Linked DNA regions of Homo sapiens. The protein of the gene in region 2 interacts with the protein of the main gene of each other region in a pairwise test. Each region holds a gene or a part of one and is shown on either strand. Other genes may lie near its edges.

Region 1 (9,969 bases), on a different chromosome or scaffold from region 2:
GAGCGAGACTCTGTCTCAAAAAAAAAAAAAAAAAAAAAAAATTAGCTGGGCATGGTGGCATGTCCTTGTAAGCCAAGCTACTCAGGAAGCTGAGGCAGAATTGCTTGAACCTGGGAGGTGGAGGTTGCAGTGAGCTGAGATTGCGCCATTGCACTCCATCCTGGGCAACAAGAGCAAAACTCTGTCTTAAAAAAAAAAAAAAGAAAGAAAAAAAAGAAAAACAAGAGACATTAATTCTCTTCATTTATTCTGCCTCTGATGCTTTTCCTTTCCTGATGTAGATCTAAGCCTCTGACCTGTATCATCTTCCTTGTCTCTTCTCTAACATTTCTCACAGGGCAGGTCTACCGGCAATACATTCCCTCAGTTTTTGTTTTTCTGAAAAAGTCTTTATTTTTCCTGCACCTTAAGGATACTTTTGCTATATGGAATTCTAGGTGGGCAGATTTTTTTTTTTTCAACTGCAACACTTTAAGGATTTCACGGCCAGGCGCAGTGGCTCACGCCTGTAATCCCAACACTTTGGGAGGCCGAGGCAGGCAGATCACGAGGTCAGGAGATCGAGACCATCCTGGCTAACACTGTGAAACCCCGTCTCTACTAAAAATACAAAAAAATTAGCCGGATGTGGTGGCGGGTGCCTGTAGTCCCAGCTACTCGGGAGGCTGAGACAGGAGAATGGCGTGAACCCGGGAGGCGGAGCTTGTAGTGAGCCGAGATTGCGCCACTGCACTCCAGCCTGGACAACAGAGCGAGACTCTGTCTCAAAAAAAAAAAAAAAAAAAGATTTCACTCTACCCTTTTGTTATCCGCATGATTTCTAACAAGAAGTCCACGGTCATTTTTATTCATATTCCTCTTGTTAACTTAAAAAATCACACAACACTGCATTTAGAAAAGGAGACTATTTCTTAAATAACTTGCAAGATAGACATCCCACAAGACCAGACACAGGCCCTTCAGAGGAGGAGAGGATGGGGCACGAGCTTTATGCTGACTTGGTTGGCTAAATATACTTAATAGGTTACATGAGGAGCTATGAATATTCATGAAGGGGGTCTTGCTGTATGTATCACATGACCCATGTTCACTTTGGGGTAGAGATGTAACATTTACATGTATTACAGTTAGGCCCTATACATCAAAAGGTCTTTCTAAGACTCAAAGGCACTTGGTGCACAGAGTTTGTAAACCAGCCGGGACCAGCCATGGTCAGTGGTCTCTTACCAGGAGAGTTACTGAAATCTGTCTCTTGTCTTGTCAGAGGTGTAGCTGTGGCTGGTGGACGAGGGTTCAGTCAGGCAGGTTTATTCAGTTTGAATGTGACAAGCCTAGGTGTGGTTTTTTGTTTTGTTTTGCTTTATGTTTTTTGTTATTTGTCCTGATGGATGTTCTGTATGTTTCCTGGATCTATGGTTTGGTGTCTGTCATTAATTTGGGGACATTCTTGCCATTCCACCATTTCTCCTGCCCCTTCTCCTCTTTCCTCCTTCCGATTCTCCCATTGTACCAATCATATCCTTTGATGTTGTTCTTGGATGGTGTTTTCTGTTGGTGTATTAGGCTGTTCTTGCATTGCTATAAAGAAATACCTGAGACAGAGTAATTTATAAAGAGAAGAGATTTAATTGGCTCACAGTTCTTGCAGGCCATACCAGCATGGCACCAGCATCTGCTCAGCTTCTTGGGGGCCTCAGGGAACTTTTACTCATGGCGGAAGGCAAAGTGGGAGCAGGCATTTCACACGGTAAAAGCAGGAGCAAGAGAGAGAGAGAGTGAGGGTGTGGGTAGGTGCCAGACACTTTAAAGAAAAACAGATCTCAGGCGGGCGCGGTGGCTCATGCCTATAATCGCAGCACTTTGGGAGGCCGAGGTGGGTGGATCAAGAGGTCAGGAGTTTGAGACCAGCCTGGTCAACATGGTGAAACCCCATCTCTACTAAAAATACAATAAATTAGCCAGGCATAGTGGCACAAGCCTGTAATCCCAGCTACTCGGGAGACTGAGGCACAAGAATCACTTAAACCCAGGAGGTTGCAGTAAGCTGAGACTGTGCTGTGCCACTGCACTCCAGTCTGGGCAACAGAACGAGACTCCGTCTCAAAACAAAAACAAAAACAAAAACAGATCTCACATGAACTCAGAGTGAGAGCTTACTCATCACAAGGGGATGAAGCGATGGTGCAAGCCATTCATGAGGAACCCGCCCCCATGATCCAAACACCCCCTGCCAAGCCCCACCTCCAAAACTGGTGATTATAACTCAACATGAGATTTGGTGGGGACACACACTCAAACTAGATCAGTTGATTTTTTTTTTTTTCATCACCTTTTCTCCTTGAATTTCAGTTTGGGAAGTTTCTGTTGACTTATCTTCATATTCACTGATTCTTTCCTTCATTCTGTCTAGTCAACTAATGAGCATTCTTTATTTCTATTGTGTTTTTGACTTCTAGCATTTTTTTTTTATTATTGTTTCCATCTTTCTGCTGATATCACCTATCTGGTCTTGCATGTTGTCTAATTTTTCTGCTAAAGCCAGTTTATCCAGGAGTTTCTGCTCTGGGTGAGCAGCTCTCAGGTGCTGTCTCTCCCTGGATGTGCCTGTCTCTTCAGAGCAGGGTGCCAGTTTGTCTGGCAGCCTTAGTTCTCTGATGGGCCCATGAAAGGCTGCCCTGCTATTCTTTGCTGTAAGGATGGGGGTGGTGACTGCCAAGCACGTCACATGACACCAGTTGAAGTTGCGGAACTTCTGAGCCAGGCTCCTAAAGTGAGACTTCCAATCCACCTTCCGTACAGGTTTCCTTAAAAAATGGGGTGCGCGACCAGCAAGGTGGCTCACTCCTGTAATCCCAGCACTTTGGGAGGCCTAGGTGAGAGGATCCTTTGAAGCCAGGAGTTCAAAGACCAAACTGGCCAACATAGTGAGCTCCCCGTCTCTATAAAATAAATAAATAAAATAAAAAGAAATAGGCTGAGTGAGAAACAGTGGCTCCAATCTTCCTCTGATGTCCCAGCTCTCAGAACAAGGTTGCTTTGTTTGCTTTTCCTTTTATAAGCACCATGTGTTAGGCAAATTCTTAAGTGGTTCCCTGAGGTATTCATGCTCCTACGTGACACCTTAATCTGCACCGGGCCAACCCAGTGACCTGTTTCTCATGAGCAGAGCCTGGAAAGCATGAGGCACAGCTCTGCTTCCTCTGTGTCACAGCTCTGATCTTGTCAGTCACTCATTGGCTCCTGCAACAAATGACCACAGCTAAGTGGCTTTTACAACAGCAGAAGTTTATTCCTTCACAGCTCTGGAGGCCAAAAGTCCAAAATCACTTTTAATGTGCTGAAATCAAGGCATTGGCAGGGCCAGGCTCCCTCGCATGGCTCCTGGGGAGAATCTGCTCCTTGTTTCTGGGGCCTCTGGTGGCTCCGGCGTTACTTGGCTTGGGACTGCATCACGTCAATTTTCAAGGCCCCATCTTCATCTCTGCTCCATCTTCCCATGGCCCTCTCTTCTGTGTGGCACCAAATTTCCTTCTGCCTCCCTCTTACAAAGATGCATGTGGCCGGGCACGCTGGCTCATGCCTGTCATCCCAGCACTTTGAGAGGCCAAGGCAGGAGGATCGCTTGAGGCCAGGAGTTCAAGACCAGCCTGGCCAACACAGAGACCCTGTCTCTGTTGTATGTATTTATTTTTGAGATAGGGTCTCACTTTGTCACCGAGGCTAGAGTGCAGTGGTGCGATCCTGGCTCACTGCTGCCTCAACCTCCTGGCCTCAAGCAATCCTTCCACCTCAGGAGTAGCTGGGACTACAGGTGCACACTACCATGCCCAGATAATTTTTCTATCTTTTGTAGAGACGAGGTCTCACCATGTTGCTCAGGCTGGTCTCGAACTCCTGGGCTCAAGAGATTTACCTGCCTCAGGCTCCCAAAGTGCTGGGATTATAGGCGTGAGCCACAGTGTTTAGGGCCCACCTGGATAATCCAGGACAATCTCTCTATCTCAAGATCCTTAATGACATTAGAAAAAAAAATTGTTTTCCCATACGAGGTAATATTTACAGGTTGCCTGGATTAGGACTTGATGGCTTTATAAGGGCCATTTTCCAGCTGTGCATGGCTTGGTCGGCTTCTCTTGTTTGCAGGAAGCTATGTGACAAGCGCAGCACCTGCAATGAGCTGTGATTGGCTGATGTAGACTGGGGGTGGGGGCTCGGACCCCCGGCAGGTGGTGTTCGAAAAGGTACAAACTCACTCTGCAGTCATCAACTCACCTTTCGGGGTGCCTCTGAGGCGTGAGGCCTGTGGGGTGACGTCCGAGCATGCCAGATTTCGTCCACTGAGCCGGGCTCCTGGAGGCCCCGTGCACAGATGCAGCTCTAGGCCCCAGGCTGCGGGCACAATTTGCCCCATGCCTCCACAGCCTCTGGATTTAAGATAACCGAGGATAGCGTCTGGGACCCCAGTGCTCCCGTGAGGGTCAAGGAGGTCCGGAGCTTACTCCAACCTCCAGGGCAGAGAGGACAGATGATCCCAAAGGCTGCTGGGCTCAGGCTAGGGCGCGGCTGAGCAGGGGCAGCTGCTTTTTCTCTCCCAGGCTTCCTGCTGTGCCTTTTACTCACCTCTACGTTCCTGGTGCTGGGGCTCCGCAGCGCTGGCTCTAAAGAAGTTCCAACGCCAGCCTGGGGGCGCAAGGCAGGAGCGCCCTGTTTCCTCGATTGTTGGGGATTTGCTCCTAGTTAGGTGGTGACTGTCCTTATGATCCCCCATAAAACCAGTCGGGCAGGGGGCAGGGGGCAGGGGGCCGGGATCGTGGAGAAGAGGCCGCGGCTGGCGGGGAAGCAACCCTCAGCGTGGACCCCTCAACCTCGCGGCTCGCCCCTTACCCGTGCACCCCTCGCCTCACACCCCCGCGCCCCTCACCCACGCGTCCCTCACCCTACACACACCCGCCCATCACTCGCGCACCCTTCACCCCTCACCCACGCTCCCCTCACCCTTCACCGGCGCGCCCCTCACCCCTCACCCCTCACCCAGGCGCCCCTCACCCTTCACTCGCGCATCACTCACCCCTCACCCCTCACCCACGCTCCCCTCACCCCTCACCCCTCACCCGCGCTCCCCTCACCCCTCACCCGCGCGCCCCTCACCCCTCACCCGCGCTCCCCTCACACTTCACCCGCGCTCCCCTCACTCTTCACCCGCGCGCCCCTCATCCACGCGCCCCTCGCCCTCAGTCCTCACCCGCGCGGGCCAAGAGGGTCCCGGGCGAGGGCAGCTCCCCGCGGGCGGGTGTGGGGCTCGGAGTTGGCTTGGCACGCGAGGCCGGCAGCAGGGCCCGGGCTTCACGCACGCCTGGCCCCCGAGTCTGTCTTGAGGCTCAGGAGCTGCCTTTTCTGCAAATAGGCGCCCAACGGTTCAGCCCGGAGAACTACACGGGGATGGGGAGAGGCCGCCCCGCGTTTCTGCAGCGACAGCGACCGTGGCCGCAACCACGATAATGACAATGGCCACGGTGACGGCCGCGCGTCCAGCCGGCCCCCCGGCGACGGCCCCGGCGCATCTGCTCGTGGGGCACTTGCATCGGAGCGGAGACCCGCGGGGGGCGCTCCGTTTCCCGAGACCCCGGCCGCCTCTGGGCGCTGCAAACTCCGAGCCGGGTCCCCGGGTCTCCTGGGTCAGGACAGAGCTGGACGAGACTCGTCCCCGGGTGGCCCGCATTCAGGACACGCGTGAGAGGGGCGTCCGGACCCCGCGCCCCCGGCCCTCCAGGACGACGCCCTCCGCTTGGATGGCCGCGCGCCGGGACAGCTGGAGACGGGTTAACGTGGGCGCCAGGCCTGAGGGACCGGCCCCGCCCGGCTGGTATTTCCCGACCGGGCGGGAGGAGCCACGCGCCCCCACCGCCCCGACAGCCCCGGCTCCCGGCCCCGCCTGCGCCCGCCCTGCCCAGCGCGCTCTAGGACACCGCGGCGCCTCCGCGCAGCTCCGGCGTGGGCGGGGCCCGGCATTGTGACGTCACGGGGCGGGGTTTCCCGGCGCCTGAGCGGACTGACGCCGAGACGCGCGCGGGTCAGCGGCGCGGGGACGCGGGGCGCTGGGCGCGGGGCTGGGGGCGCAGGTAAGGAGCGCGGGGGCGGCGCGGGGTCCTCGGGGGGCGGCCTAGGGCGGCCGAGGACGCAGGGCCGGGGCAGTTGGTCGCGGCCTTCAGTCCCCTGGCTTGGTCCTGTGGGGTCCCCGGCCCGGCACCTCCTCCCGCGAGCCGTGCGCCCCCATCCTGGGCCTGCGCCCCCTTCCCCCGAGCCGTGCGCCCCCATGCTAGGCCCTGTGACCCTCCCCCGAACAGTGCGCCCCGATCCTGGGCCCTGCGCCCCCTCCCCCACCCCATCCCGGGGCGCGCGTGGACCCCCGCCGGCTAAGCGCACCCGGGCGGTGACCCCAGGGGCTTCGCCCGTCCTCGACCCCGGCGCTGGGACCCCTCCCCAGCCCCCTCCGGGAGCGTCTCGGGACCCCCAGACACCCCCCCGTCCCAGGCAGGGGCCGCTCCTCGCGCGCCCCGGGCCCCGGTCGCCCCCGCTCTGCCTCGGGTCCTGCGGCTGGCGCGGGTCGGGTCGGGTCCGTGCGCGCCGCCCCAGCCTCCCTGGGCGGAACTCGAGCAGCTCCCCGCTCCCCGCAGGCCCCGAGGCCGCAGGAGCGCGCGGAGCGGCGATGAGCAGGCGGCCGGTGGCCCGCGGGGCGCGGAGCCCGTGACAGCCTCGGCCAGGCGGGCGCTGCGATGGAGGCCGAGGGCCTGGACTGGCTCCTGGTGCCACTGCACCAGCTGGTGTCCTGGGGCGCGGCCGCGGCCATGGTCTTCGGAGGGGTGGTGCCCTACGTCCCGCAGTATCGGGACATTCGCAGGACGCAGAACGCCGACGGCTTCTCCACCTACGTGTGCCTGGTGCTGCTGGTGGCCAACATTTTGCGGATACTCTTCTGGTAAGTTGGGGGCTTGCTTTCCTGGGCTGCACCCGGAGAAGAGGGTTTCTCCTTTGGGGTTTCTGGTTGAGGCCGGGGGAGCAGCAGGGTCCACACCTCCCTGCTGGGCCAGCGTCCCACTCTGCCGTGGATGGGGTACGTGGCTGCAGGCAAGTCACTTCTTAGGGTGAGATTATTTTTCCAGAAAAACGGTGGGGTTGGAGCACAGAATCTCAGAGAAAATCTCCAGATCCGCCTCCTTGCATGATGTTCCACATGGGTACTTAGCAGGGACCTCTCAGCTGGGCACTGGCCTAGGCCTGCCTGTGGAGAGGAGCCGTTCCTGCCCTCCTTTTTCATGTTGTATAGTTTTTCTTTGTTGTTTTGAGAGAGGGTCTTGCTCTGTGGTCCAGGCTGAAGTGCATGATGACATGACAGCTCACCGCAGTCTCCACGTTCCTGGGCTCAGGTGATCCTCCCATCTCAGCCTCCCGAGTAGCTGGGACCACAGGCGCACCACCACACCCGGCTAATTGTTTTTTTTGTATTTTTTGTAGAGACAGGGGAGTGGGGGGTTGTCTCACTTTGTTGCCCAGGCTGGTCTCGAACTCCTGGCCTCAAGCATCCCTCCCCACTGGGCCTCTGAAAGGGCTGGGATTACAAGCTGAGCCACGGCGCCTGGCCTGCCTTATTTAAATAGGAAGTCACTCTCTCTGGAGACTGTCTTGTTCCTCTCCCCAACTTCCTCTTTGTATTTGTATTAGGCTAAGGAAATTGAAATTAATTTTAACAGTTGTTGAAGGCAGACATAATTGGGAGGGTGAGTTTTCAGAGGAAATGAGGTCTCACAGCTGCATTCTAAGGCCAAAAACGTCTGAAATTTTTCTTTCTTCTGGGTGATCCCAGCCTCTCTGTCCGGGCAGATTGGAAGGTGTCTGCTGCTCTTCCTATGAAGAGGGCCTGGTGGAGGGGTGGAGAGAAGGAGTCCAGGCAGCTGGTGTCAAGAACTCTGCTTCTGACTCTGGTCACTGAGTAATCACGTACCTGCTTCTTTGCCTGTTAGTTTTGTTTTGTTTTTTTTTGAGACAGAGTCTTGCTCTGTCGCCAGGCTGGAGTGCAGTGGTACAATCTCGGCTCACTGCAGCCTCTGACTCCTGGGTTCAAGTGATTCTCCTGCCTCAGCCTCCTGAGTAGCTGGGACTACAGGTGCCTGCCACCATACCCAGGTAATTTTTGTATTTTTAGTAGAGACCAGGTTTCACCATGTTGACCAGGATGGTCTCGATCCCTTGACCTCATGATCCACCCACCTTGACCTCCCAAAGTGTTGGGATTACAGGCGTGAGCCACCGCGCCTGGCCCGCCTGTTAGTTTTTAAGTCAACCTTATTGAGGTGTGATTTGCATTCCATGAAATACACCCCTTTCGTGTCCATTTGATGAGTTCTGATGCTGAGGTGTCCCGTGTTCATGAGCCGGGGTGCTCCCTGCTCCGTGGCCTTCATCCCAGCCCTGGCCATGGGCAGCCATTGGTCCATGTGTCCCTGGGTGTTAGTTTTGCCCCTGCCAGGGATTTTTAGGTGAGCGAGTGGGTTGGCTGCCTCTTCCCCAGAGTTGTCTCTGAGGCAGGGAGGTTTGTCCCCTGCAACGACCTCGGAGGAGGATTTTGGGTCCGAGTCCCGTCTCGAGGTTTGTCTCTGGGCCAGGCTGCATCTGAGGGAGGTTCAGGGGTGCTCATTTTGGAGACTCCTTCTTTCTTTCCCATCGCCTGCTTTGGAGACGTGGCTGGCGGTGCTGCAGTGGCCTCAGTGAGCGTAAGGTTGACTGGAAGTAGGTTTCTAATTGTCTAATGCTGTTGTTTACTTTGAGTGCATGTTGTGGGGGTTGGGGAGACGCTGGTCGGCAGGCCACCTGCTACAGCCCCAGCTCACGTGTGTGTTGTGAAGGAGCGCTGCACTCGTCTTCAGGGTTATAGAATAAATTCTCTCCAAAATAATGGAGGAAAATTGCCTGAGAGTGGATAACCATACGGGAAAGAAGTTCCGCTTAGAGGTTTCCCTCCCCAGTATGCTCATAGTTCAAAGTTGCTAAAAGAAAATAAATTAGGTTGGGCACGGTGGCCCGCTCCTGTAATTCCAGCACTTTTGGAGGCCGGGGTGGGAGGATCACTTGAGGCCAGGAGTTCAAGACCAACCAACGCAACACAGCAAGACACCGTCTCTACAAAAAATTGAAACATTAGCTTAGGTGTGGGGGCATTACCTGTAGTCCTAGCTACTTGCGAGGCTGTGAAAGGAGGATCACTTAAGCCCAGGAATTCGAGGCTGCAGTGAGCTGTCCTCCAGTCTGGCCAACAGAGAGAGACCCTGTCTCAAAAAAAGAAAGAAAAGAATCTATCTAATGTCCATCTAAGTATCGGTTTGGAGAAGTCAGAGATTAACCCAGTTTCCTGGTGCCATCTTGTCATTGCCTCATGACCTAACTGGCACTGACGTAGAGGTTTGAAGCTGGAACTGGGAGTTCTTGCTTACAGGCCTTGGAGAGACACTTGAGCTCTTTCTTTGTGGAGCACAGGGCAGCCTTCCAGGGAATTCTGAACTTTGTCCATGGGTCTCTTCATAGAATCAACATCCTGGGCTGTCCTGGTCATGCATGGCTTCTGTGACCACTGAGTGCACACGCAGGGCCCCAGTGTGTTCCAGAAGATGGTGGGATGAAAGCGGGGAGAGCAGAGGGCGCTCGTTCCTGCTGGGCGTCCCTCCAGCCTGAGGATGCGCCATCCCTGCACTCCACACAGCGAAGCCCACCTCCCTACCTACCACACATCCTCTTGTGCCCACCCGGTCCCCAGGTCCTGCTGTGCAGAGGGGGATGATGACCCCTTCTGTTTCTCTCTTGGGAGCCTCTTGTGACCCCCCACTCCTGGCTTCCCCTCTCCAGGCTTTGTAGGTTCACAGCCTCTTTGATTTCATGGTTTGTAGGGCAGAGGATTTGTGCTTTAGCAGAAGTGACACG
Region 2 (10,049 bases):
CCTGCCTCTGAGAAGCCTGGGGAGGGGAACTGTCCCACCTCTGAACCCCCCAGGGGACTTGCTGTCAGTCCTTGACTCAAAGCATTTGAGAGCAAGAGTTTTGAAATCAAACTAACCCAGGTTCAACTCCTGCCTGCTTGTGGGGAGCCTTGGAAAAGTCAGCTTCATTCTCATCTTTAACGCTCGCTGTCCTGTATGACATGGGGGTGCAATGCCCTTGTCACCATCCCTCAAAAGGGCAAAGCCAGCCAGGCGTGGTGGCTCACGCCTATACTCCCAGTACTTTGGGAGGCTGAGGCAGGTGGATCACTTGAGGTCAAAAGTTCAAAACCAGCCTAGCCAACGTGGTAAAACCCCGTCTCTACCGAAAATACAAAAAATTAGCCAGGCTTGGTGACACGCACCTATAATCCCAGCTACTCGGGAGGCTGAGGCAGGAGAATCGCTTGAACCTGGGAGGCAGAGGTTGCGGTGAGCTGAGATCATGCCACTGCATTCCAGCCGGGGCAACACAGCGAGACTCCATCTCAAAAACAAAACAAAACAAAACAAGCACAAAGGCAGGGCACACCCATGAGAAAAATACCTTTTTTCAAAGAATGTTGTTCATGGTATTTCAGAAAAAGTATTGTAGTGTAATCACTGGGGAATTCAAAACCCTTTTAGATTTCCTTCCTCTTATTTTGGGCTTAGTTTTGGTTTTATTTTGATATAAGCAAGGGAGGGTTCCATTATCTTCTCAGCTTTAGAGGCTCTAAGGAACTTTTATTTATTTATTTATTTTTTTTTTTTTTTGAGACGGAGTCTTGCTCTGTCACCCAGGCTGGAGTGCAGTGGCACGATCTCGGCTCACGGCAAGGTCCGCCTCCCAGGTTCACACCATTCTCCTGCCTCAGCCTCCTTGGTAGCTGGGAGTACAGGTGCCCGCCACCATACCTGGCTAATTTTTTTGTATTTTTACTAGAGATGGGGTTTCATCGTGTTAGCCAGGATGGTCTCAATCTCCTGACCTCGTGATCCACCCGCCTCGGCCTCCCAAAGTGCTGAGATTACAGGCGTGAGCCACCGCGCCCGGCCTCTAAGGAACTTTTAAACTTTTGATTTGGAAAAATTTCAAGCCTAAAAAAAGTTGCAGATGAATACATTGCACATCATATATATTTATTCTAGACTCTTCAAGTGTTATCTTTATTATTATTTTATTTATTTATTTATTTATTAGACAGAGTCTCACTCTGTCACCCAAGCTGGAGTGCAGTGGCGTGATCTTGGCTCACCACAAGCTCCAACTCCCGTGTTCACACCATTCTCCCGCCTCAGCCTCCCAAGTACCTGGGACTACAGGCGCCTGCCACTGCGCCCAGCTAATTTTTTTTTTTTTTTTTGTATTTTTGGTAGAGACGGGGTTTCACCGTGGTCTCCATCTCCTGATCTCGTGATCCGCTCACCTCGGCCTCCCAAAGTGCTGGGATTATAGGCGTGAGCCACCGCACCCGGCCGGCTTTATTTATTATTTTTAAACTTTATTTTAGGTTCAGGGGTACATGTACAGGTTTTTTATATAGGTAAACTCATGTCATGCGGGTTTGTTGTACACATAATTTCCTCACTCAAGTACTAAGCCTGGTACTGGACAGTTATTTTTATTTGTTTTTGAGATGGAGTTTCGCTCTGTCGCCCAGGCCGGAGTGCAGCCGCACCATCTCCCCTCACTGCAACCTCCGCCTCCTGGGCTCAAGTGATTCTTGTGCCTCAGCCTCCCAAGTAGCTGGGATTACAGGTGTGTGCCACCACACCTAGCTAATTTTTGTATCTTCAGTACAGACAGGGTTTCACCATGTTGGCCAGGCTGGTCTTAAACTCCTGACCTCAAGTGATCCACCCACCTCGGCCTCCCAAAGTGCTGGGATTACAGGTGTGAGCCACCACGCCCAGCCCAATATTTTGTTATTTTTTTCGGCTCCTCTCCCTCCTCCCGTCCTCCACCCTTCAATAGGCCTCAGTGTCTGTTTTTTTCCCTTTGTGTCCATGTGTTCTCATCGTTTAGCTCCAACTTATGTGAGAACATGCGGTATTTGCTTTTCTGTTCCTGGGTCAGTTTACTAAGGGTAATGGCCTCCAGCTCTATCCATGTGCCTGCAAAGGACACGATCTCATTCTTTTTTATGGCTGCATAGTATTTCATGGTATACATGTACCACATTTTCTTTATCCAGTCCACCACTGATGGGCATTTAGGTTGATTCCATGTCTTTGCTATTGTGAATAGTGCTGCAATCAACACACGCGTGCGTGTGTTTTTGGTTTTGCTTTTTTTCTGAGACAGAGTCTCGCTCTGTCACTCAGGCTGGAGTGAGGTGGTGCAATCTCAGTTCACTGCAACTTCCATCTCCTGGATTCAAGCGATTCTCCTGCCTTAGCCTCCCAAGTAGCTCAGGTTATAGGCGCCTGCCACCACACCTGGCTAATTTTTGTATTTTTAGTAGACATGGGGTTTCACTATGTTGGCCAGGCTGGTCTCAAACTCCTGACCTCAAGTGATCTACCTACCTCAGTCTCCCAAAGTGTTGGGATTACAGGTGTGAGCCACTGCGCCTGGCCTGCATGTGTTTTAATGATAGAACAATTTATATTCCTTTGGGCATACACCCAGTAAGGGGATTGCTGGGTCAAATGTTAGTTTGGTTATCAACATTCAAAGCCTGAATTTTAAACAGGTTGTTGGGCTGGGGGCTCATATCCGTCAGCTCATTCACATTTAGCACTGGTCTCATCCCCAGTAGCTTTTCCAGGACAGCGACCTTCACCACAAAGCTTGAGTTTTCCCAATGCAAGCCTGGGCTTCCCAAGCATTTTTACTTTTCTAAGGAAGACATCCTGGAGAGGATACCTGGATAGACTGGGGAACCTTCTCTGTGTCTCTCCCAGTGCTGTCTAGCATCAATTCATGGGCCACTTCTTTCGAGTAATTTGTCTGCACCTCTTGGGCCATGATTTCCACCATCTTTTCTGGATTTGACGGGCCTGCCAGTGCTGCCTGTGAGAGGTCTTCCCAATCTGCTTGCTGCACTGTTTTAGTAAAAGCAGCACAGAACAGATGAGGCAAATGATCATCTGTAGTTTTGACAACCATATGAGCTTCAATCATGGTCTTTTTTTTTTTCCATGAAAGCTGGTCAGGCTGTTTTTGCACTGAACATCCTCAGTGATTAGCTTGAATTTTCCAGATGCAACTTCACCATTCTGCAGATGAGCAGTACTGACTTCAAAAACACGGCCCTTGAGGCCATCGGGTGTGATTTTGGTTCCTGACGTCCCTGTGCCTGGTGTTTTCCATACTCCTTATGCCAAGCACAGCTGGTGCTTTCGCCTCATGCCAGTCTCTCTCAGACAGTGGACCAACCTCTTTCTTCTTGGCTCCCTTCCTGCCACTTCGGTTAAGGTGCTCGTTCTTGCCTGCTGCATGGTGGTGCAGACAGCCAAGGGCCAGATGTTAACATTGCCATTTTCCCTCCCTCTCAGAAGGCTGCTACTCATTATGATTATTGTCAGGTTTTGAATTGTCCGAGTGTAAGCTGCAGACATAGCAACACAAGGTCCCAAGTATTTCAGTATGTATCTCCTAAGATCGGGGAGCTTTCCTGACGTAACCACAATATAATGATCACGCGTGGGAGATTTACTACTGCTCCAACACCGTTAGCTCATACAGTGTATGTCCAATCTTTGCCAATTGTCTCAACCATGCCAGACCCACGTGAGGTTGTCTCCTCAGCCTCTCTTTGTCTCTTTCACAATACTGACATTGTGGAAGAAGATGGCCTAGATGTTCAGCAGGCTGTCCCTCAAAGTGGGATTATCTGGTGTTTCCCCTTTATGAGTGGACTCAAGGTGAGCATGTTTTGCAGGAATGCTCCGGAAGGGACGTTGTGTCCTTCCTGGTGCATCACATCAGGAGGCACACGATGCCACCTTATCCCATCACCAGCAATGCTGAACTGGGTTGCTTGGTTCAGGTGGCGCCTGCTAGGTTTCTTTTTTCCCTTCACCGTTAAGAAATGCTGACCCTGGGCCGGGCACGGTGCCTCATTCCTGTAATCCCCGCACTTTGGGAGGCCAAGGTGGGTGGATCACCTGAGGTCAGGAGTTCAAGACATGCCTGGCCAACGTGGAGAAATCCCATCTTTACTAAAAATACAAAAATTAGGCCTGGCGCCATGACTCATGCCTGTAATCCCAGCACTTTGGGAGGCCAAGGCAGGCGGATCACAAGGTCAGGAGATTGAGACCATCCTGGCTAACACGGTGAAACCCCGGGTCTACTAAAAATACAAAAAATTAGCCGGGCGTGGTGGCGGGCGCCTGTAGTCCCAGCTACTTGGGAGGCTGAGGCAGGAGAATGGCGTGAACCCGGGAGGCGGAGCTTGCAGTGAGCCAAGATCACGCCATTGCACTCCAGCCTGGGCAACAGAGCGACACTCTGTCTCAAAAAAAACCAAAAGGAAACAAAAAAAAGAAAAATTAGCCAGGTGTGGTGGCGGGTGCCTGTAATCTCAGCTACTCGGGAGGCTGAGGCAGAAGAATCATTTGAACCCAGGAGGCGGAGGTTGCAGTGATCCAAGATAGCGCCATTGCACTACAGCTTGGGTGACAAGAGTGAAACTCCGTCTCAAAAAAAAAAAAAAAAAAGAAGGAAAAAGAAAAAAGAAATGCCAACCATGGCCGGGCATGGTGGCTCATACGAAGAGTCCTAGCAACTCAGGAGGCTGAGGAAGGAGGATCCCTTGAACCCAAGAGGTCAAGGCTGCAGTGAGCTATGATCTTGTCATTGTACTTCAGCCTGGGTGACAAAGTGAGACTGTGTCTCAAAAATAAAAAAATAATAATAATAATTTAAAAAAAGGCCGGGCACCGTGACTCACGCCTGTAATCTCAGCACTTTGGGAGGCCGAGGCGGGTGGATCACGAGGTCAGGAGATCGAGACCATCCTGGCTAACACAGTGAAACCCCATCTGTACTAAAAATACAAAAAATTAGCCGGCCATGGTGACGGGCGCCTGTAGTCCCGGCTACTCGGGAGGCTGAGGCATGAACCCGGGAGGCAGTGAGCCGAGATTGGGCCACTGCACTCCAACCTGGGCGACAGAGTGAGACTCCGTCTCAATAATAAAAATATCGACCTTTTAAAAGGAAGAGGATGAGGCACAAAATATAAAGAGTTTACTCTAGAGGCTAACGTGGAAGGATCACTTGAGGTCAGAAGTTTGAGAACAGCCTGGGCAACACACTGTGAGCTCCACAGCAAAAATTAGCCGGGTGTGGTGGTGCAGGCCTGTGGTCCCTGTTACTCCAGAGGCTGAGGCGGGAGGATGGCTTGAGTCCAGGAGGTCAAGGCTGCACTGAGCTGTGACCGCACCACCGCACTCCAGCCTGGGCGACAGAAGGAGACCCTGTCTCAAAATAAATAAATAAATGACCCAGAAGGTGGGGACAGGGTGGGGGCTGATGTAAAGCTGTCAAGAATTCTCTTTGGTTTATGGAAATACCATTGATTAGTGATGGGCTGTGCCCTGGTGCGGGTACAGGGTCCGGGCGGCTATTTGGCTAATTCACAGCTATCTGCGTAGTAGCCGGCAGTTTCCAGAGGCGACCCTCCTGTACTGTCTCTGGGGCCTGATCGTTGAAGAGGACTCGCCTTCTGTTCTTTTCTCATTAGGCGGGAGGACCCTCTGGGGCTGCCTGGAGGAAGCCTCCACTCCGACCCTCGCCCGAGTGCCTACTGCGAGGGCGGATGCATGCTTCGGGACTTCTAATTTCATCCTTCACGTCTTTAGCCGCCGCCTATGGCAAGGAAAGGCCTGCCCTCGCCCCTGCCTCCCTCCTCCCTTCCCCACCGCGGCTCCGTCACGATCGGCGCGGGCGACCGGGCCTGGGGGAGCCCCTCCAGCCGGCTCCTGCCCTCAGGCCCCGGGCGCTTCCCTCGCCCCGACTCCCGGGCCCGAGGTCCCGGGGGCGGCCATTCGCCTCCCAAGCACTCGGCGCTCAGCCCAACGGGGCCGCCTTTGCAGTCGCGTGGGCAGAACGGGGTCCTCAGGGCCGCGGCGATTCTCTAGGGCGGGCGGCGCCACGACCCGCCGGGAGCGCGGCTCCCAGGAGCCCCCGCGCGACCGGGCCTCGGTGGTTGCCGTTGCAGGTCACATGGTCGCCGTCGCTCATCACGTGGCCCCGTCGCGCGTCACGTGGCCGCCGGCGCGGGTCACGAGAACAAACACGGGGGCAGCCGGCGCTTCCCGGCCGGTGTCGCTCCGCGGCGGGCCATGGCCAACGTCTCTAAGAAGGTGTCCTGGTCCGGCCGGGACCGGGACGACGAGGAGGCGGCGCCGCTGCTGCGGAGGACGGCGCGGCCCGGCGGGGGGACGCCGCTGCTGAACGGGGCTGGGCCTGGGGCTGCGCGCCAGGTGAGGCCGGGCAGGGCGCAGGCGGGGAAACTGAGCCCTCGTGCGCCCCGCAGCCCGCGCCCTCGTGAGCCTTCTGGCGGCGCCGCGTGTCTCGGTCCTGGAGGCGACCGAGGCGCGGTGGACTCGGGAACGCGCCCCGGGGCTCCTCGGCGGGGCCGGGCTGGCGGGGGCGCCTGGGGTCTGGAGTCTTCGGAGGCCGCGCCGGGCTCGGTGGCCGGGAGGGCTGCGTGGGCGAGGCGGAGCTCGCCAGACCCCGCGGAATGTGGGGCGCTGAGGGGCGCCGGGGCAGCCGTGGCGCACGTTCATTCCCTCCGGTGTCCCCCAGACTGGCCCTAAAGGGGTGCAAGTGGCTTTCTGTTCAGGTGACTTTTAAAAATTGTCATCCTACACGAGCAACTAATTTTGTTTGCGTTTTTGACCCCCTGGGAGATGGAAACAGTTAAGATTGCAGCCGGGTCACTGTCTTTCAGTGAGAATGACTGAGCGCCTTTATCTGCCATCTTTCTGTGTGGGGATCAGTCCCGACTTTCAGGTGATCTTGGGAGTGACGAGTATTTGTACTCAGTCTCCCTTCGCACCGAGTTGAATTTGCAATGTGCAGGCAAACACAATAAGCAGCAAGTCAGAGGTTGGAATGCGTTCCGCATGTCACCCTGCAGCGTGCGTCTGAGCAGTGTTAAGGTCTGGAGAACCGTTGCGGGTACATTTGTTTCCCTGTCTGTGTATTGTCTTAATATTTTTTTTTTTTTGAGACGGAGTTTCACTGTAGTTGCCCAGGCTGGAGTGCAATGGCGCGATCTCGGCTCACTGCAACCCCCACCTCCCGAGTTTAAGTGACTCTCCTGCCTCAGCCTCCTGAGTAGCTGGAATTACAGGCGTGCGCCACCGCGCCCGGCTAATTTTGTATTTTTAGTAGAGACGGGGTTCCTCCGTGTTGGTCAGGCTGGCCTCGAACTCCCGACCTCACGTGATCCCCCGCACCTCAGCCTCCCAAAGTGCTGGGATTACAGGCGTGAGCCACTGCGCCTGGCCGTATTGTGTTACTTTTGAGTTAATGGACCGTTTTGTTGATGGGTCTTAATCTGCTTTGCAGTTATTCTTTACATTTTCTCTTGTCTAGTCCTTTAAACACTTGTCTTGTGCTTAAAGATTAGGAAGGACGGCAGGGCACGGTGGCTCACATCTGTAATCCCAGCACTTTGGGAGGCCGAGGCGGGTGGATCATGAGGTCAGGAGATTGAGACCATCCTGGCTAATATGGTGAAACCCCGTCTCTACTAAAAATACAAAAAATTAGCCAGGCGTGGTGGCGGGCGCCTGTAGTCCCAGCTACTCGGGAGGCTGAGGCAGGAGAATCAATTGAACCCGGGAGGCGGAGCTTACAGTGAGCGGAGATGGCGCTACTGCACTCCAGCCTGGGCAGAGCGAGACTCCGTCTCAAAAAAAAAAAAAAAAAAAAAAAAGTTTAGGAAGGACACGAAAATCAGCCTGTTTCCATAGAACCTACATTTAGGTTTTCCCAATTCCTTAGAAACGCACCAGACAAAGAAGGTCATAGTCTGCCTTTTGCTGATAAGAAGCAGCAGCTCAGCTCCCTTTGAAGTGGGCCCTCCTGCTCTCCGTGCTGTAGTCTGCATGAAAAGTGATCTGAAGGGGTTAATTTGAAGTGATGGGGCCATGGGTGATTAGTTATTTGTGTGTATGCCTGTGTGTGTATGTGTATGCCTCTGTGTGTGTGTGTGTGTGTTTCTGTTTTAAAAGAAAGGCCAGGTGTGGTGGCTCATGCCTGTAATCCTAGCACTTTGGGAGGCCAAGGTAGGGGAGGATCACTTGAGCCCAGAAGTTCAAGACCAGCCTGGGCAAAATAGTGAAACCCTGTCTCAAAAAAAAAAAAACAAAATTAGCCAGGTGTGGTGATATGCATCTGTAGTCCCAGCTACTGGCTCGGGAGGCTGAGGCAGAGGAGTCGCATGAGCCCAGGAGGTTGAAGCTGCAGTGAGGTGCTTTTTTTTTTTTTTTTCCGAGGTAGTTTGTCACTCTTTTGCCCAGGCTGGAGTTTGAGAACCTATCTCAAAAAATTTAAAAAAAATTTTTTTAATTAAAGAAATCTGAAGTTCACAAGGTAGAAGGAATAAACCCAACTTTAAGGGCTGAAAGGTAAAGATTAGGAACCTTGATGGAGGTTGAATTTGAGTTTCTCTTGGGACTGAATGTGCTTGGGGTTTCCTGTCTGTCTTTGCAAATAGAAGAGTTGATTTTTTGGGAAATAATCTGTTGATCTCTTAACCTTAGAAAGTATTCCCGGCTGTGCACGGTGGCTCATGCCTGTAATCCCAGCACTTTGGGAGGCCGAGGCAGGTGGATCACCTGAGGTCAGGAGTTCGAGACCAGCCTGGCCAACATGGTGAAACCCCATGTCTACTAAAAATAGAAAAATTAGCCGAGTATAGTGGTGAGCGCCTGTAATCCTAGCTAGTCAGGAGGCTGAGGCAGGAGAATCGCTTGAACCCAGGAGGCAGAGGTTGCACTGAGCCGAGATCACGCCATTGCCTGGGCAACAAGAACAAAACTCCATCTCAAAAATAAAAATAAAAAAACTATTCCCTTAAAAGTCATTGTAAGCTTATTTGTTTGTTTGCATTTAATAACAGCGGATACTCTGCTTACAAGCAATTTAAAAAATAGTTTATCGTGCACTTGCTCTGTGGCTGCCTGGGACGCAGGCGCATAAAGCTGCTTCCTTCCTGCTGGAGACAGGCCCAGTGCCCTGTGCGGATGGTCTGCAGGGCCCCTGGGGCAGGAGCAGTCACAAGGCTTGGGCTTGAAGAGCACAAGATCTTCAGGCAGGCGGACGGGGGGAAAGGACAGAGGGAGTGTGTGTTTGGGATGCGCTGTGGAGCCTGGAGGTCAGCCCTGCTGCGCACATGAACAGGCTTTGAATTTGGCTCATCTCTAGGGGAGCCCATGGGAAGCTAGGACCCCATTCCTGAAGGGCCCCAGCCTTCCCCTGCAGACAGACTGGAGAGGCGGAGTCTAGAGGCCAAGACACCACCTCTTAGGCCAGGCGTTTGTGCTCTGAGCATCGGACTCGCCGATGGCCTCCTGCAAGGCCTGTAGCCTCCCTGTTGCCCAGTTTTCCCGTCTGCGAAAAAGTTAACGCATGCATAGCGCTGAGCACGGTGCCTGTCACAAACTACGCTCTGAAGAAACGTGAGTCGTGCCCGGTCGTGTTAAAACCAGCAACACAAGAGGGATTCGTGTTCGTTGTGACTTTCCTGTCCAACTTCCTGAGTAGCTACTGGATTTCTTGGTGCTGCTTTTCTGGGGGAGGGTCTGCTCTGACTGGTGGGCACAGCTCACAGTTAGGCTCAGGCGCACCCCAGTGTGGCCACAGACGGGGTACTGTAAGCTGCCCTTGGGTTCAAGGCCTCCAGAGCTGTTTTGAGCTAAAATATCAACCCAGGCCATCCCCTGCTGACGGGACTGTTCCAGTGAACATGAGAACTGGTCCTAGCTGCCTCCAGGCTCTTTAGGGTTTGTTGCAGGATTTTCAGGTTGGCTGGTGGTGTCGTTGCCACCTCAGCGTGGGC
Region 3 (9,304 bases), on a different chromosome or scaffold from region 2:
GTGTGAAGAAAAGGCCACAGTGTTACAAAGTTCATAGGAAAGGGCACCTTTACTTTGGCATGAGTGTGCAACAGAGAGTCATGAGGACTGTGGTGAAACAAAAAGAGCAGACCCCATTGAAAGGGGACAGCTGCTACTCAGTATCAGATAATGATTGCTATGAGGGAACATGGGTTCTTTACTTCCAGATCTTTCCATTTTTAGAGGGAACCCAGAAATGTAACCATGTGAAATCTCTTGATTTTTAATGCCTGGAAATGAAATCAAATTTTAAGATTATACTCCGTGGGCCAACCGGAAAAGATTATGCCAGCAGGTTGTGGCATCTGGGCCGAAGGAACCACGGAGCTGTGGGGTCACTGGTGAGGGGAAGAAGACAATTAGCAGTCTAAGCGGGAGGGAAAGAGAAAACTAGAGAAGCAGGGCGGTCAAAAGTGAGACGAATGAGCCATCCTGGATCTCTGGCTCCCTGGTGAATTCTGAAATGGATGGAAATGGAGGGCCAGCATCTCTAGTAAAGGACTGTTTAATGTGTATGTACTTGGCCAACTCAAAATAAAATGTTTGGAGCATGAATAGCCCCATATGATATATGCTGTTTGGTTGACATATGCTTGTATTTTAACAACCAACATTGTCCCTTTTATTTTTGCAAACAATATGATATGATCTGGTCCTCACTTTAATTTTACATGAAAGGTATAATGCATCTACGTAAATAAGAAAGCAAAGAAGTTTTCTAAATGCTTTAATTTTTTGTCACAAATATTTCTGCATCTCTCAGTCCCTTCTTGTTGGAAAAAGGAGGGCTAGTGATACATTTGTTAATGGCACTTTTAAAATGTGCTTTGGTATATAGAGGTAACAATGTACTTCTTAGGTATGTTAATAATAAATTAAGGTTATAATGGTTGCCATATTAGAGAAAATGAATAAGATTAGTCTCAGCAAAAATAAAAATTAGTTTGGAAGTAGATAAGCTAGAAATATCAAAACTGAAAAAAATAGCTTCCCAGATAGCGTTCTACTATGTGCAATTTTTTGAGGAATAATATTCAATTACAGAGTGTAATACCTTGCACAGCACTTGACATATAGTAGCTATTCAGCAAATGTTTGTTGAATTTTATTACTTTTTAAACAAATTACTGAGTAATCTTCCTTAGTAATCATTTCTGTAACTCAGATAAAAATAGAAATTTATAAGAGTTTTTATTTTTGTTACTTGTAAAAGTATATTTCCTAGAGAAAATATCAGCAGTGGTAGAGACCAGAAAAAGTAAGTGTGTGTGTTCTAAACAGTGATTCCAACTCAATGTGTTCAGAGAAAACACTTTGACCCTGTCTGTGTTTACAGTCCCTGCTGACAGTGTACTGTCGTATCCTCAGCCTTGTTCTATTTCTTTATTTTAGCTTTACAGAGATTAGGTCTCAAGTTATGAGAATCTCCATGGCTTTCAGGGGCTAAACTTTTCTGCCATTCTTTTGCTCTTACCGGGCTCAGAAGGACATGTCAGGTGGGATACGTGTTTCTCTTTCAGAGCTGAAGAAAGGGTCTGAGCTGCGGAATCAGTAGAGAAAGCCTTGGTCTCAGTGACTCCTTGGCTTTCAACCCACCTAGCCTCAGACAGCCAGGAGGCCTTTTTACCACTGGATACTGATGAGATGTTTTAGGTCCTTGCACTTTGCAAAACTCCTTTCTCCCAGTGGGATATTATTAGGACATAGCCAGGCTAGAAAGGCCGTGGGAAGCTTTGGAGGTAGGAGGATAGGATCCAGACAGGGTTACAATAAGGAGAAGGGCATTCTCTTTGGTGCACTCCATAGTCCAATGGCAGTCCTGAGCTGATTCCAGTTAGGAACCAAGGGTGGACTTTCTTCTTTGGTTCTTTGGCCCTTTTGATTTCCCCAGCTGGGGCAGGGTAAGGAGCATGAAAGAAACCAGCCTCAGGTGTGTCTCCTCATTTCTGTCTCATCTAAACTTCAGCTTCCAGGCATCGCACGGTAGTTTTGCTTGGACTCTTGGACTCTTCTGGGTTTTTATCAGTTTTCTTTGATTCCTCATTAGGGTTGCTATCATTGGCCTTCTCCTCCTTTACTACTTTGGTTTCGATCATTTCCTTCTGCTGATTCTTGTTTGTAAAAGGGAAGGCCTTCACATACCTTTAGGCAGAAACATGAAATTAAAGTGAGAGACTCTCACACATAACGATAGATAACACTTTTTGGCCATGGTACATATTGGCACAGTACACTGGATACCTTTATTTCAGAGTGATGCCAGCACATGCATGCTCTAATACATTAAGACATCACCACCTTAATGGATTCATTTAAATTGGACAATATGTTTGCAGGCCAGACTTTAGGCTGACCACATAACTCTTCCAACAAAAACAAAGAACCAAAAATCAAATAAAGCATATAAATTTTCCCCAGATGTCAATTTTTTTTAATTTCTTGATTTTCAAAGGACAGTCATTGACTGATGGCTGGACGACATGCATGTCCTGAAATAGAAAAGATTGGGCTGAAGGGAAAGAGATGAGATGAGGGAGAAATTTATATCAGAGGACTGCTATCTCCATTTTGATCAGCAAAATGCCAACAGTGACCCTGAAAAAGCACAGGATAGAAACATGACAAAGATTACAAGACTAGCAGTGCACCAACAACCCTACCTTTTGACATAGCAAAATCCAAGACCAGCTGCAGCACCAAAGAAGAGGAGAGCAAGCACTAGCAGAGCCGTGGGGACACCTGCAAGGAACAGAGACAAGGCCTGTTGGTCCTTCACTTAAACATTGTGTGTAATGCTCATTGCATGATCCAGGTGATTGAGACAGTAGACAGTACAGGAGAAAAACCTTCTCTGTAGCCCTTTATGATATTGGGCCCACACCAGCTTCTTTGCTTCATGCTTGTAGAATCATTGGCCTTGCTTCTCACACTCTCAATTCTATCAGTTGCAATATGACAGAGTTCATTTCTCCTCCATGGCCTTGAGACCTACTCTAGTCAACAAGCCTGCCTGAGAAAGAGATGACTAGAATAAAGTCATAGGCCTTTAGGGTATATATTTTAAAAAGAACTTATGCATAGGAACAGATAGTGATTTATTTTTAAAAGTCTTGAGTTTTCAACAGTGAAATTCTTTTATACTTACACTTTTTAGCTTAATCACTAAGGTTCTTTACAGCTCTCAGATTCTATGACTTCATGAAAGTTGAGTTTGTGTTAAGCTTTTATTAGTATTTGACAGGTCCTGAGCGCCTCATCTAAAGACAGGCAGGATTCTATGAATTATCTGTTATACATGAACATACATACACACGTAACATAGACACAGAAACCATTTACCTCCAAACCCAGCAGCTTCATTCTTGAATGCTGCTTTATTTTCAACAAATGGTTCAGTTTCTGTAGACATGGTGCTAGTTTCCATAAAAACTTCTGTGACACAAATCAATTTTTTTCTCCGTGGAATAGAAGTGGAAGCTGGAGCAGGAGGAGTAGTAGTAGGGGCAGGTATTGTAGAGTAAGGGGATGCCACCGAGTAGGTACTGTCACTGACAATAAATTCTGTTGTTTGTGTTGCAGTTTGAGTGTTGAATATGGGATCTTTGGTGGTGATAATTTCTGGAATGCACGAGTTAGTCCAAGTATCTGTTGGGATAGGGAAACATGGAATAAAAGTATTGCAACAGCCTCCTAACTGTTCTTCTTGCCTCTAGTCTTACTACCTCCAAACCCCTTATACCGCAGCTGGAATGGTCTTTAAAAAGCAAATCTAACCATATCACTTTCTTCCTTAGAAGCCTTCAGTGGCTATCTTTGTTGTATGGCCTACAAGGCCTTCTGTGATTTGGCCCCTGCTAACATGCCAGCCTCATCTGCTCTTTTTCTCTCATTGCCCCTGCCATACTGAAATTACTTGAAATTCCTTGATACACTTTATCTTACATCCAAGCCTTGCACCACGATGCTTTATTCACCTTTATGACTCTTTGCCTCTCTTTATTTAGCTTACTCTGACTCATCCCTCAGGTCTCAGATTGACCCTGTCTTTCTCAGGCAGACTTGTTGACTTGATTGGCATATGTTCTTGTACTTCCTTGTCACAGTTCTCATTACACTGTTCCCCACTGGACTGCAAGCTCTCTGGCAGCAGAAACCCCGTCTGTCTTGGTCAGCATGGTATGAGCACTGTGTGTGGTACATAGCACATGCTCAATAACTATTTGATGAATAGGGAAGGAAGGAAAAGGGAAAGGAAGGAAAGTATAGATTGGAAGACCAAATATACACATGTGGTGTCACTTCAGGACAAAGATATGCTAAGACCTGATATTTCTGGGCTCATTAAAAAAAGAAGTGAACAAAAAGGGACCAGGAGAGGGATAAGGGTTTGCTTTCCAATCTGTTGCATGTGCTAGAGAGGAAACACTTGTTAAAGCATCTTAATCTGAGTTGACCATGGCAGTAAGTGTTTAAATAGGTATCTCATTGAACAATATTACTAAACCCTTGTTTACACAGGAGGAAACTGAAGTTTAGAGAAATTGAATAACTCGCCCAAAGTCACAGAGCTAGTAAATGGCAGAGCCATGCAATATATTATAATATAAATTTGCATCTATTTTAAGTCCCTAATTATTTGTGGCAGTGGGTAGCATCAGCTGGGGTTGGGGGGTGGGCTAGCAGAGGGATAGCATTAGAAGAAATACCTAACGTAGGTGACGGGTTGATGGGTGCAGCAAACCACCATGGCACATGTATACCTATGTAACAAACCTGCACATTTTGCACGTGTATCCCAGAACTTAAAGTATAATAAAAATAAAATAATAAAATAAAATTATCTCTGGAAAAAAAGAAAAGAAATACATGGGATGGGAGTACAAGTTAAATGAAACCATGAGGAAATAGACAAATCCAAGTCCTCTTCCTCTGGCTCTTCTCTGTTTAGTCAGAGGGCTGGGTATCATCACATTGCCAGCTGGCAGGAAGGCAGTTAAAAAGCAAAGCCATTTGACAGGCATGGGCTGGCTATGAGGTATGCAGGCATATGTAGCTCACCAATTCCCCAGCCAGTGATGATAGACCAAAGAGGCAGAGAAGGGAAGGAAGATGGGAAATACACTGTTAGGAGAAGCCCTATGTTTCAGTCTTGATTCTGCCACTAACTGACCGTAGGACCTTGAACAAGCTAAGCCCGTGTTCTGAACTGTAGTTGTTTCATCCATGAAGTGAGGGAACTGGTCAAAGTTTCTCCATGGGCCTTTTCTGTGCCAAAGCCCTCTGGATCAGGGAACTACTTGGATCCTATATTGCCTTTCTGGGACAGTTTTTGCTAATATTGGCTGGTGCACATTTATCTCTCGGATCTTCGAGAATGATCTTGAAATCTATCCTGTGTATGACCTCTCAGCCACCTAACCTTCAGAAGGTCAGATAGATGAGTATGTGTGAAAAGTAATAATCAGACAGGGGTCCTTATGACAAACTGAGAGCAAGTGAGTATTTAGTAAAAGAAAAACTTTAGGAGAAGTACTTAGGTGAAGCACTTGGGCTAAGGCAGCCAAGGTCTTCAAGCAAGGTTAGTGGGTGACTTCATGACCACGAACAAATCAGTGCTGCCCTCCAGGTGTCAATCTTTTCCTTCATAAAGTGGAGACTGGGTCTGGTTCTTAAAATTATAAAGGAATGTGGAACAGTGGAAAGAGTGCGGTTTCAGAGTTAGACCTGAGTCTGAACCTTTACAGTAATGAGACGTTAGACAAATGTGTTTACATCCTTTGAACTCGGTTTCTTTTTTTTTTTTTTTTTTTTTTTTTGAGACGGAGTCTCACTCTGTCGCCCAGGCTGGAGTGCAATGGCATGATCTTGGCTCACTGCAAGCTCCGCCTCCTGGGTTCATGCCATTCTCCTGCCTCAGCCTCCCGAGTAGCTGGGACTACAGGTGCCTGCCACCACGCCTGGCTAATTTTTTGTATTTTTAGTAGAGACGGGGTTTCACCGTGTTAGGATGGTCTCAATCTCCTGACCTTGTGATCTGCCCGCCTCGGCCTCCCAAAGTGCTGGGATTACAGGCATGAGCCACTGTGCCCGGCCTGAACTCGGTTTCTTTATTTGCAAAGTGGGGATGATAAAGCATATCTCATAGGGATCTGTAGATTCCATATAGGTGGAAGCAACCAACCTTGGATTGAAAATATTTGGGAAAAAAAGAAAAATAACAATACAACAATAAAAAAGCAAATAATACAGTACAATGACTGTTTACATAGCATCTACATTGTATTAGGTATTATAAGTAGTTTAGAGATGATTTAAAGTGTACAGGAGGATGTGTGTAGGTTATATGCAAATATGACCCCATTTTATATCAGGGACTTGGGCATCTGTAGATTTTTGTATATGATGGGGTGCCGGAACCAATCTCCCACTGACACTGAGGGACGACTGTGCATCACTTTGTCCATAATGGATGCATTACATACATCTGTACCTTTGTTCCTTCCCTTCTGCCTGCTTATCTTATAGGATGCAGGGATGGTGGCAGTGGTAATTGAGCCTCCTGAATGTCTTCTCGTGTGTTGCCATTCAGTTATATCTCTCCTAACTTTTTCCTTTGAGGGGCATATTGCCACCCCTAGCCTGGCCAGAGAGACAGTGTCGGGAGAATTAGATGGCCGTGGCTGTGATTGCTTCTGCTGCTGCTCAGGGTTACTCTTCCCAGACAGGTCTCAGAGTGAGAGATACCCAGAGAATGCCACGTGGAAAGGTTGCAGATCAGACTCACCAGATGAGTTGTAACAATAGGCTGCAAACTGTCGGCTCACTGGAACCTTCCAAATCAGGACACCCACCCCATTTTTCCCACACTTGGGGTTTGGGCTAATCCTAGAGATGACCACGAATCCATCTCCAACCCAGCCATAGCTGTAAAAGAATACACACTAGTTGAACAGAAAAATGATTAGAAGGCTTCATCTCTATTGCTGAACAAGAACACAGAGCTAAAAAAGAACTCCAGCAGTGACAGTGAAACCAGCTTTTTCTCACCTGCAAGTTTCAAAGCTAGCTTTCAAGGCTGTTTCAACTTGGTCCTTGCCGGCCAAACTTAGTCCCAGCAGCCTACAGGCCTCCTTAGCTTCTGTGAAATTCAGCTGCTGGTTCGCCTTTTTGCTCACAAGGGTGATCCCCATAATTCTGCATGACACCTGGATGGAAAGCTCTGCAAAGGAATCACATAGGTCCTCAGTTTGCTGCTGTCCTTGTTTCCAGCCCTTAGACTCTCCTTCCCAGCAGAGTATATCGTCCTGATGCGCAGGGAGGTCTATCTGGCTGGGACTGGGGTTTAGAATAACAGGACACAGACCAGGCATTTTCCACAAGGACCATCTGCTGGGCTAGATGGATGCTTGTTCTTGTCCAAGCTGTAAATGTCGCCCAATCAAAATCTATCCCATCCCACTGCATTAAGATGCCTTGCTCACCATATAGGGGCTTTGGCTACCTGTTGTTGGGGTGCAGTCTAAGGGATGCAGTTACTGCAAACCTTTCTGGAGTCTGTAAAATGAAGCATCTGAGACTTTGAGAAAGATAGAATTCAGGGCTCTAGTTCATAGAATAGTTAGCAATACCCCAAACCAATGTGGTTTGGGGACACTACTATTTGTGAGATGGGCTGAAAATGTCACACTTGTTATAAAAGAATGTGAGTGCTCTCAGTTCCAGGTCTTTTGGCCACTGGGGGACAGGCTTACTCAGAAGTTCCTGGAGGAGCTGGCAGTAAACTTTGAATGGCAGAAAAACTAAATGAAGAAAGCAGAATTTTAGAGTCAGACTTGGGCTTAGATCTAGCATATGTCATTTGCTAGCTCTGTGACCTTAGCCTAGATACTTCATCTCTTTAATCTTCAGCTCTTTGAGCCTCCTTGTTTATAAATTCAAGGGAGTAACAGTGTCTACTGAATAGGGTAGTGAAAGTTAAGTGAGTAAATTCTAATACAAATGTTTAGCATAGTGCCTGCCACATGGTAGGTGCTTAATAAATCCACATAACATTATCATTATCGTTAAAGCATTTTGGTTTTGGTCTGCTAATGATTGATTACCCCACAGAAGCTGAGGCTGTTGAATAGGTAAGATATGAATAATATTTCTACTCAAAATCTAATGGATTTGGGAATTCTTTTGAACCCTTTTCTCTGGGTTCTGGGATGTACAGACCTGTATAAAATTGCCAAGTTGTATTGTATTCAAATACATTATTCCTACTGGGCTTCATCCACAAACATCCATAAAAGGGCATTTAAATCTCTCAAGTAATTGCTTGTACGCAGCTCTGTGTATTGGATGCTCAGTCAAATGCTTTGACCACTTCCTAGGTTGATATCTAATGGAAGTTTCTTTTTGAAAACATGGAAGGAGCATTTCTAAGTCCTCCATATGAACCTTGCTGTGGTGGCAGATTAGGAGCACACACTCAATTATGCCTGATTCTAAAACCCCAGTTCCTCTTTTTTCCTTCTTCTTTCCCAAGAGATGGATCTTGCTATGTTGCCCAGGCTGGTCGTAAATTCCTGGGCTCAAGCAATCCTCCCACCTCAGCCTCCCTGAGTAGCTGGAACTACAGGTGTGCACCAGTATGGCCAAGCAAGAACCCCAGTTCTTTTTTTTTTTTTGAGACGGAGTTTCACTCTTGTTGCCCAGGCTGGAGTGCAATAGCGTGATCTCGGCTCACTGTAACCTCCACCTCCTGGGTTCAAGCGATTCTCCTGCCTCATTCTCCCAAGTAGCTGGGATTACAGGCATGTGCCACCAAACCTGGCTAATTTTGTACTTTTAGTAGAGACAGGGTTTCTCCATGTTGGTCAGGTTGGTCTTGAACTGCCGACCTCAGGTGATCCACCCACCTTGGCTTCCCAAAGTGCTGGGATTACAGGCGTGAGCCACTGTGCCTGGCCCTTTTTTTTTTCTTTTTTGAGACAGAGTCTCGTTCTGTCACCCAGGCTGCAGTGCAGTGGCGTGATCCATGCTCACTGCAACCTCTGCCTCCCGGGTCCAAGCAACTCTTGTGCTTCAGCCTCCTGACTAGCTGGGACTACAGACGCGAGACACCATGCCCAGCTAATTTTTGTATTTTTTGTAGAGATGGGGTTTCACCATGTTGGCCAGGCTGGTCTCAAACTCCTGACCTCAGGTGATCCACCCACCTCGGCCTCCTAAAGTGCTGAGATTACAGTCATGAACCACCGTGCCCAACCCGGCCCCCAGTTCTTAACAATGACACTGT

The links.
Region 1: the proteins of CLCN7 (region 2) and SLC66A2 interact in binary tests that used the Homo sapiens proteins (3 or more experiments, as listed by UniProt).
Region 3: the proteins of CLCN7 (region 2) and LYVE1 interact in binary tests that used the Homo sapiens proteins (3 or more experiments, as listed by UniProt).

Annotation. Positions count from the first base shown.
Region 1 is NC_000018.10:79,947,731-79,957,699, reverse strand, and holds the start of SLC66A2 (solute carrier family 66 member 2), read left to right. Parts: upstream 1-6,046; 5' UTR 6,047-6,119; intron 6,120-6,669; exon of another isoform or gene 6,670-6,674; 5' UTR 6,675-6,773; coding exon 6,774-6,976; intron 6,977-8,138; exon of another isoform or gene 8,139-8,181; intron 8,182-9,969.
Region 2 is NC_000016.10:1,471,244-1,481,292, reverse strand, and holds the start of CLCN7 (H(+)/Cl(-) exchange transporter 7), read left to right. Parts: upstream 1-6,264; 5' UTR 6,265-6,318; coding exon 6,319-6,459; intron 6,460-9,529; exon of another isoform or gene 9,530-9,669; intron 9,670-10,049. UniProt on the Homo sapiens protein: Slowly voltage-gated channel mediating the exchange of chloride ions against protons. Functions as antiporter and contributes to the acidification of the lysosome lumen and may be involved in maintaining lysosomal pH.
Region 3 is NC_000011.10:10,557,135-10,566,438, forward strand, and holds part of LYVE1 (lymphatic vessel endothelial hyaluronic acid receptor 1 precursor), read right to left. Parts: intron 7,241-9,304; coding exon 7,069-7,240; intron 6,946-7,068; coding exon 6,806-6,945; intron 3,667-6,805; coding exon 3,361-3,666; intron 2,761-3,360; coding exon 2,682-2,760; intron 2,164-2,681; coding exon 1,977-2,163; 3' UTR 1-1,976. UniProt on the Homo sapiens protein: Ligand-specific transporter trafficking between intracellular organelles (TGN) and the plasma membrane. Plays a role in autocrine regulation of cell growth mediated by growth regulators containing cell surface retention sequence binding (CRS).